Homo sapiens: one gene and its partner. The protein of the gene in region 1 interacts with the protein of each later gene in a pairwise test. Each region holds a gene or a part of one and is shown in the gene's direction. Other genes may lie near its edges.

The links. Proteins that work in one complex are often made in the same cells at the same time.
Region 2: the proteins of DAPP1 (region 1) and WDR20 interact in binary tests that used the Homo sapiens proteins (3 or more experiments, as listed by UniProt).

The regions. Positions count from the first base shown.
Region 1 is NC_000004.12:99,815,130-99,818,881, forward strand, and holds the start of DAPP1 (dual adapter for phosphotyrosine and 3-phosphotyrosine and 3-phosphoinositide), read left to right. Parts: upstream 1-1,697; 5' UTR 1,698-1,784; coding exon 1,785-1,885; intron 1,886-3,752. UniProt on the Homo sapiens protein: May act as a B-cell-associated adapter that regulates B-cell antigen receptor (BCR)-signaling downstream of PI3K.
Region 2 is NC_000014.9:102,142,885-102,146,636, forward strand, and holds part of WDR20 (WD repeat-containing protein 20), read left to right. Parts: intron 1-3,752. UniProt on the Homo sapiens protein: Regulator of deubiquitinating complexes. Activates deubiquitinating activity of complexes containing USP12. Anchors at the base of the ubiquitin-contacting loop of USP12 and remotely modulates the catalytic center of the enzyme.

The DNA.
Region 1 (3,752 bases):
CAGGACGATCTTAGAAAATTCTGCTACTTGTACTTCCAAAAAAGTTAAGAAAAAGAACAACCAGAATTTGCTAAAAATGGGAATGAAATAGATACTAAAACACCAAATAAAGGGCTCTAGAGAGGGAACAGGAACTCTAGTGCCCAGGCTGTTCCCCTGTCACTGCTGTATGCATATTCAGTATCTCCCTGGCCTGCACTGGCCTCTCTGTTCAAGTGGGCCCTGTCCTTCTCTGTGAGCAAACTGTAGCCAAAAGAATTTAAGTGCTCATTTAGTCAGTTATATATGTATTATCAGAGCTTAGTCTTCAGCAGACTGCCTCCAGACACTCAGGAACTTCCCACTGGCAACCAGTGTTACCCGGGTCTCACCGATCCCGGGTGAACAGTGGTAATAGGGAGGAAGATGAAGGATAGAACCATTGCACAGCAGCCTTTTGCAATCATCTAGTCCTTTAGGAACAGTTCTGCTGTGCTGTTTAGTCCTCAGGCCACACTGTGAGAACAAGTTACAGAGCACTGTGGTGAGTGCTGAATGAGTCAGGGAGTAGAGATAGGAAGAGAGAGAGAGAAAGGGAGAGGGAGAGAGAGACCTGTAGGTACATAGAAAAGGCAGGAAGCAACATATGTCCTTGACTCATTTGATACTGCACTTTGTTCCACTTCCCAAGGATTCAGTCACTGCAATTTACCTTTAGCATTCCAGGCAGATAGAATCCTGCTCTACATATGAATCTGGGCACAAAGCCATGCAGGTGTGAGTAAGCCCATGAAGGAAGTGGCACTCAAAGACTCTAGGAGTTCAGGCCAGGTGCAGTGGCTCATGCCTATAAGCCCAGCACTTTGGGAGGCCGAGGTGAGTGTATCACCTGAGGGTGAAACCCTGTCTCTATAAAAACACAAAAATTAGCAGAGCATGATGACGGGTGCCTGTAATACCAGCTACTTGGGAGGCTGAGGCAGAAGAATCACTTGAACCCTGGGAGGTGGAGGTTGCAGTGATCTCAGGTCATGCCATTACACTCCAGACTGAGTGACAGAGCGAGACTGTCTCAAAAAAAAAAAAAAAAAAAGACTCCAGGAGTTCTAATATGCCCCATTAGGTGGGCACCAGAATGGCCCCTTGTAACTTTTTCCTACCTTCTCCTCTCCTAATTCTTTTTCTGTGGAGGAAACAATAATTGTCTCTGAATCATCCCTATTCGGAGCATTGAGGATATATTAGAAGGTCTGGGTAAACAAGCAGAAATATTGCAAAAGTGCTAAAACATCAAACTTCAGGGTCGAATTTGTGGTTTGCTTCTGCTTTTTCTATCCACTCTAAAGGTGTTCCTGATAGAGAAGCTTCCTCAGTGTTCCCTGTGTTGGTGTGTAAGACAGAAAGAAGATGGGGTAAAAGAGTGCACGCATCCTCCACTACAAACCAGAGGCTGATAGCATTAGGGAGAAGCTAGGGTTTGGCCTCACACAAGCAGTTTGCACTGTTGTCCAATCCCAGGTGGGGTGGTTGCCTCTTCATTTCCTTTGATAGCAACCGCCTGTTGCGTGATGTAGTGTGGGTGTCCTCAGAGGTAGCTACCTAAGTTTGCATACTTCCTGACTGACAGAACACTCCTGCCAGTGCCTCCAGGCCAGGGTGGTGGTGTTGGTGGGAGGAGTAAGTAACCAAGTTTCACTTCCTTGCCTTGGAGACTCAGAGCCATAGCAGGCTGCTGTCTCACAGAGCGAGAAGGTGTCAGGAGCAGCCCAGTTGTGTCTCTCTCTCTACCTCTGTGAAGGGCGCGAATGGGCAGAGCAGAACTTCTAGAAGGGAAGATGAGCACCCAGGATCCCTCAGATCTGTGGAGCAGATCCGATGGAGAGGCTGAGCTGCTCCAGGACTTGGGGTAAGGCAGCAGATCTCCTTTCAAAGTACCTAGTGGGTGGACATTGACTCCGCACTCCCACCTGCATGCTTTGATTAATGACTATCTTCAGTGCCTTGTTGCCCTCTGCCACCTCAACCATTTATTTTTTTCCACTTTATTCATTTGTATCTGTTAAGTATCTTCTTGTCTGGGGCTAATTCCATTGGAAAAGCAGGCATTATTTTTCTAGATGTGAAAACAAGTTGGTTGAGAAAATAGGGAAAAAAATCAAATGTTGGACATTCTTTGAGAAGAGGGACAGAATTGGGATATAGAGGTGATGTTGCCTGGCTTCCTTGATGTTGCTCTGGTTTATGAATAAATGCGCTGTTCAAGAGTTTCTAGCACTGACCCAGGGACAGTAAAAGGACTGTGTTTCTGGTAAGATAAACAGAAAGCTTACCCTACTGTAAGGGAGAGGGACTTTTTCAAAAGACAGAGAATGAGGAAGTTCCTGCAACAGTCTCGCTTGTATATTTCTTTCTCCTGATACTGCATTTGTGAGATTTGATATCGTATGTATGTCCAGAGAGCCAACTTTGAGCCTTTCAGTACCAACAATCCAGGAAGAGGATAAAATTTCTGCTTCAAACAGGTAAGCATAGGTAGGTGGAGTCATTGGAGCTCTGTCTTTAAGAAGGGACCCAGATGACAACTCATCCGGGTATTTAATAAGAAACAAGTATTACACAAGAGAGGAATTGGGGATTTCCCAGAGAAACTGCCTAATGCACTGGGAATATCCCAATGAAGGTGGCTTTGACACCTGTGCATGAGGAGAGGCAAAACCTTTACCTTCTGCCTGGACAAATAGCTCTAACTCTTCATAGCAATCCAATGACATAGGAGCTGTTGTCATCTTCATCTTACAAAGGATGAAAACAAGTACCAAACAGGTTTGAATAACTTGCTTGCTAGTCACACATCAATTACATAGCAAAGCTGGGCATCCAACCTACCACAGGCTATGTCCGAAACCAAAGAAAAACCAAAATAGAGTTGAAATCTCTCTGTGTTAAGGCTGCAGAGATTGTATCTTTTTATGTTGTATTACTGTAAAAGTTTATTAATAATTCCTGTCTTTAGATTATAAAACTGAGGTCTCGGAATTGAACTCTACTTTCATTTGGCAAATCAGATAAAACACCTGGAATTTTCATTAAAGAAAACTCCCCTTATTAGGAAGCCAGAGCTCTAGAATCTCTCTATCCCTCTAGATTGAATCCCCAAACAGAAGAGGTAAAAGGCCCTTCTGTGAGCATCCAGCACAGGTGTCACCAAGTCCAAAAGCTAAAGCTGAACTGTGGCCCTCAGTGTCTTATTGAACTATTAAGTTACAATGCTTTACATGTTCTGTTAACTGTATTCCCAGCCCACTGTAATAGAAAACCCCAAAGGAGGAGATAGAGGAATATATTCAATTCTGGTCCTTTAGTTAAACAAACAATCCTAGAACCCAGAGTCTATGGTTGAGTACTGTGGGAACACACTTAGATGACAAAGATGAATTAGATGCTGTCTCTGTGCCCCACCATGATGTCAACAGCAAGAAGCAACTACAGGTGAAACCCACGGGTGGAATAGGACTGTGTCTTTCCTCCATGTGCAAAGAATAGACATTGAATACAAAACTGAGTCACACCACTTCCCTGCAAAAAAAAAAGGGTACATTCATGGCCAGATTTCCCTATTTCAGAAGGCGTGAACAATTAATAAACATGAGGATGATTTCTATAGCAATGGGCAACCTGCAGTTATCTGGGAAAACTGCTCTACAGTCCTGGTTCTTGACCTTGGCTGTGCTCTGGAACATCTTGACACCCAAACCACAGACTTGACAAATGAT
Region 2 (3,752 bases), on another chromosome or scaffold:
TGTGTAAAATGAGTAGAAAATAGGTCTTTTAAAGAACTTAACTCATTAATTACGTGCTACCATTCCTGAGAGGAAACATGGGGTCCTGGGGAAATGGAGTAGGTGAGGAAGTAGTCTAACGTTCATGCTGAGGAGTGCAATCTTGATCCTTTTAAAAGGTTTACAGGTCAGTGTCTGGAGCTAGAAGGAACTTTAGAGTTTGTTATTTCACCCTCCTCAGAGCGAACCAAGGCCAGAGAGGGGATGCAAACCTGTTAGAATTTTTTCTCATAGTAAGGAAAATGAAGCACAGCTGAGTCTAAACCAGCTTAGAAGAGACTGATCCACCTTTTTGATCACAGGGATATTATATACTCCGAGCACTTCAGAATCTACCCCGGCATTTTGCCATATATTATTTTATTAAATTCTTGAGGTAGATTAAAACATCTTTTCACAATCGAGGAAGTTTAGAGTGGGGTTTCTTGTGTGAGGAGATGTAGTTTTGCAAATTTATTTAAAGACAGTATTAACATTGATTTAATACTGACACTAATCATTTTACCAGATTTGAGTGACTACTGTGATAGTAATAATACCAGGCAAGGTGATGTGAGGTATTCAGAGCTAAATAAGACCCTGTCCCTCTCCCCAAAAGACTTTCAACTACTAGCTTTTAAACATCTTTTTTTTTTTTTTGAGACAAAGTCTAGCTCTGTCACCCAGGGTGGAGTGCAGTGGCACAATCTCGGCTCACTGCAACCTCTGCCTCCTAGGTTCAAGCGATTCTCCTCCCTCAGCCTCCCGAGCAGCTGGGACTACAGGTGCGTACCACCACGCCCAGCTAATTTTTGTATTTTTGGTAGAGATGGGGTTTCATCATATTGGCCAGGCTGGTCTCGAACTCCTGACCTCGTGATCCACCCTCCTCGGCCTTCCAAAGTGCTGGGATTACAGGCGTGAGCCACTGCGCCCGGCCGTAAACATCTTTATTACATACTTTGTTCTCCTTTTTTAAAAAAAGAGATTGTGGTCGGGTGCAGTGGCTCATACCTGTAATCCCAGCACTTTGGGAGACTGAGGTGGGAGGATCGCTTGAGCCCAGGAGTTTGAGACCAGCCTGGATAATATATCAATACCCTGTGTCCACAAAAAAATAATAAAAAAAAAATTAGCTGGCCATGGTGGTATGTGCCTGTAGTCACAGCTACTTGGGAAGCGAGGAGGGCTCTTGAGCCGAAGAGTTAAGGTTACAGTGAGCTATGATTGTGCCACTGTACCCCAACCTGGGCAACAGAATGAGACCCTTTCTTTAAAACAACAAAAAAGGGGAGTGGGGCTATGCGCCATGGCTCACACCTGTAATCTCAGCGCTTTGGGAGGCCGAGGCAGGTAGATGACCTGAGGTCAGGAGTTTGAGACCAGCCTGGCCAACATGGTAAAACCCCATCTCTACTAAAAATACAAAATTAGCTGGGCGTGGTGGTGCTTGCCTATAGTCCCAGCTACTCGGGAGGCCGAGGCAGGAGAATCACTTGAACCCTGGAGTCGGAGGTTGCAGTGAGCCAAGATCATACCACCGCACTCCAGCCTGGGCGACAGAGCTAGACTCTGTCTCAAAAAAAAAAAAAAAAGATTGTTTTAGGATGTAGGATAAAAGATGCCAAAGGTAAGGTAGCTGGGCTTATTGGACCAATCCTCTCATTTTATGGACATCTGTTTTTACATAAATATGAATGGCCTCCATTCAGATCTCAGCTTAACCATCACTTCCTCAGGAAATTTTTCTTTGAATCCCCATGGTGTATCAGTTTTACCCTATTACATGTTTTTTTGTTTTGTTTTTTTTTTTGTTTTTGAGACAGAATCTTGCTCTGTTGCCCAGGCTGGAGTGCAGTGATGTGATCTTGGCTCACTGCAACCTCTGCCGCCCGGGCCCAAGTGATTCTTGGGCTACTCCCGAGTAGCTGGGATTACAGGCATGTGCCACCATGCCCAGCTCATTTTTGTATTTTAATAGAGACGGGGTTTTGCCATGTTGGCCAGGCTGGTCTTGAACTCCTGGCCTCAAGTGATTCACCTGCCTCAGCCTCCCAAAGCACTGGGATTACAGGCTCTATGTTCTTAGAGCATCTTGTGCTTTGCCTTCCTAGCACTTTTCTGAATTTGTAATTCTGTGTGATGATCCAACTGTGCCTTCTATAAAACAAAGCTCCCTTAGAATAGGGACATTATCTTTCCTGCTCTCCATCTTCTCAATGCACAGTGCAGTGTCCAGTTTAGAGTTAGGCCCTTGCTGTGTACTTGTTGAGTGAATGACTGAGTAAAGCCATGTCTGTCTATACCAAACTTGAAAGAGATCTTTAGAAGATGAAAAACCTATTCAGTTTTGGGCCCAAAAGTAACTTGGGTATTTTTTAATAGCTCATATCTTTTAAAAGACATTTAAAAATATTGCTAGTAGGTAAAAAATTTAACCTTCTTAAAATAGGGAAATCGTGTAAGAGACAATGAAGTAATAGTAAACAAATGACACAGATTACTTTTGATCTACTTCTGTCAAACCATGTCACCTACAAGATCCATGTACAACTTTTAAAAACTGTTCTCAGGCCAGGAGTGGTGGCTCATACCTATAATCCTAACACTTTTGGGAGGCCAAGGCGGGAGGATTGCAGGGGTCCAGCCTGGGCAACACAGTGAAACCTCGTGTGGGTTCGAGACCAGCCTGGACAACATAGTGAAACCCTGTCTCTACAAGGGTGGGCGTGGTGTCATGTGCCTCTAGTCCCACCTACTTGGAAGGCTGAGGTAGAAGGGTCACTTGAACTGGGGAGGTTGAGGCTGCAGTGAGCTGTAATCGTGCCACTGCACTCCAGCCCGGGCAAGAGAGTGAGAGCCTGTTTCAAAAAAACAAAACAATCAATAATAAACAAAAACTATACTCAGAATTACTTAACATTCAAGCCAAAGAACCTTCCTACCTTCCCACATCTTAAGATTCCAGGTCACAAATGTACTGCCCAGAGAAGTTACTGAAGTGGTAACTACAGGAGGTAGGAAGTAGATTTAGAGGATTCTAAGGTTTTTCCATCTCTAAAGCTTATATGATTCTGTACTCAGTTGTTTTTTTTTTTTTTAAATGGAAATGGATTCATCATTCTATTGGGGAGGTATCTTCATCTCTTTGATTCATTGCCTACTTGATTTGGAATTGAGAGGGGTGGGGTGTTTGGGAAAGCAAGCTGAAAACATTGTGATTTCTAGGTATTTATGCTGGAAGAGTTTTTTTGTTTGTTTGTTTGTTTGTTTGTTTTTGAGACGAAGTCTTGCTCTGTCGCCCAGGCTGGAGTGCAGTGGCTTGATCTTGGCTCACTGTGACCTCTGGCACCCGGGTTTTAAGCGATTCTCCTGCCTCAGCCTCCGAAGTAGCTGGGATTACAGGCACTTGCCACCATGCCCAGCTAATTTTTGTATATTTAGTAGAGACAGGGTTTCAGCATCTTGGCCAGGCTGGTCTTGAACTCCTGACCTTGTGATCCACCCGTCTCGGCCTCTCAAAGTGCTGGGATTACAGGTGTGAATCACCATGCCCGGCTAGAAGAGCTTTATGTTCATGATGCTGAGATGAAGTTGGGGCCAGAAGAAGAGTCAGTTGATAAAAGCTAAAGTATTTTTAGATCCTGATTAAAGAAGAAGGTAATGGGTTGACTTGAGAGAGAATGAGCGTTCTGTTATGGGAATGCTCATATGGGAAATGTTCTGTCTCTTTG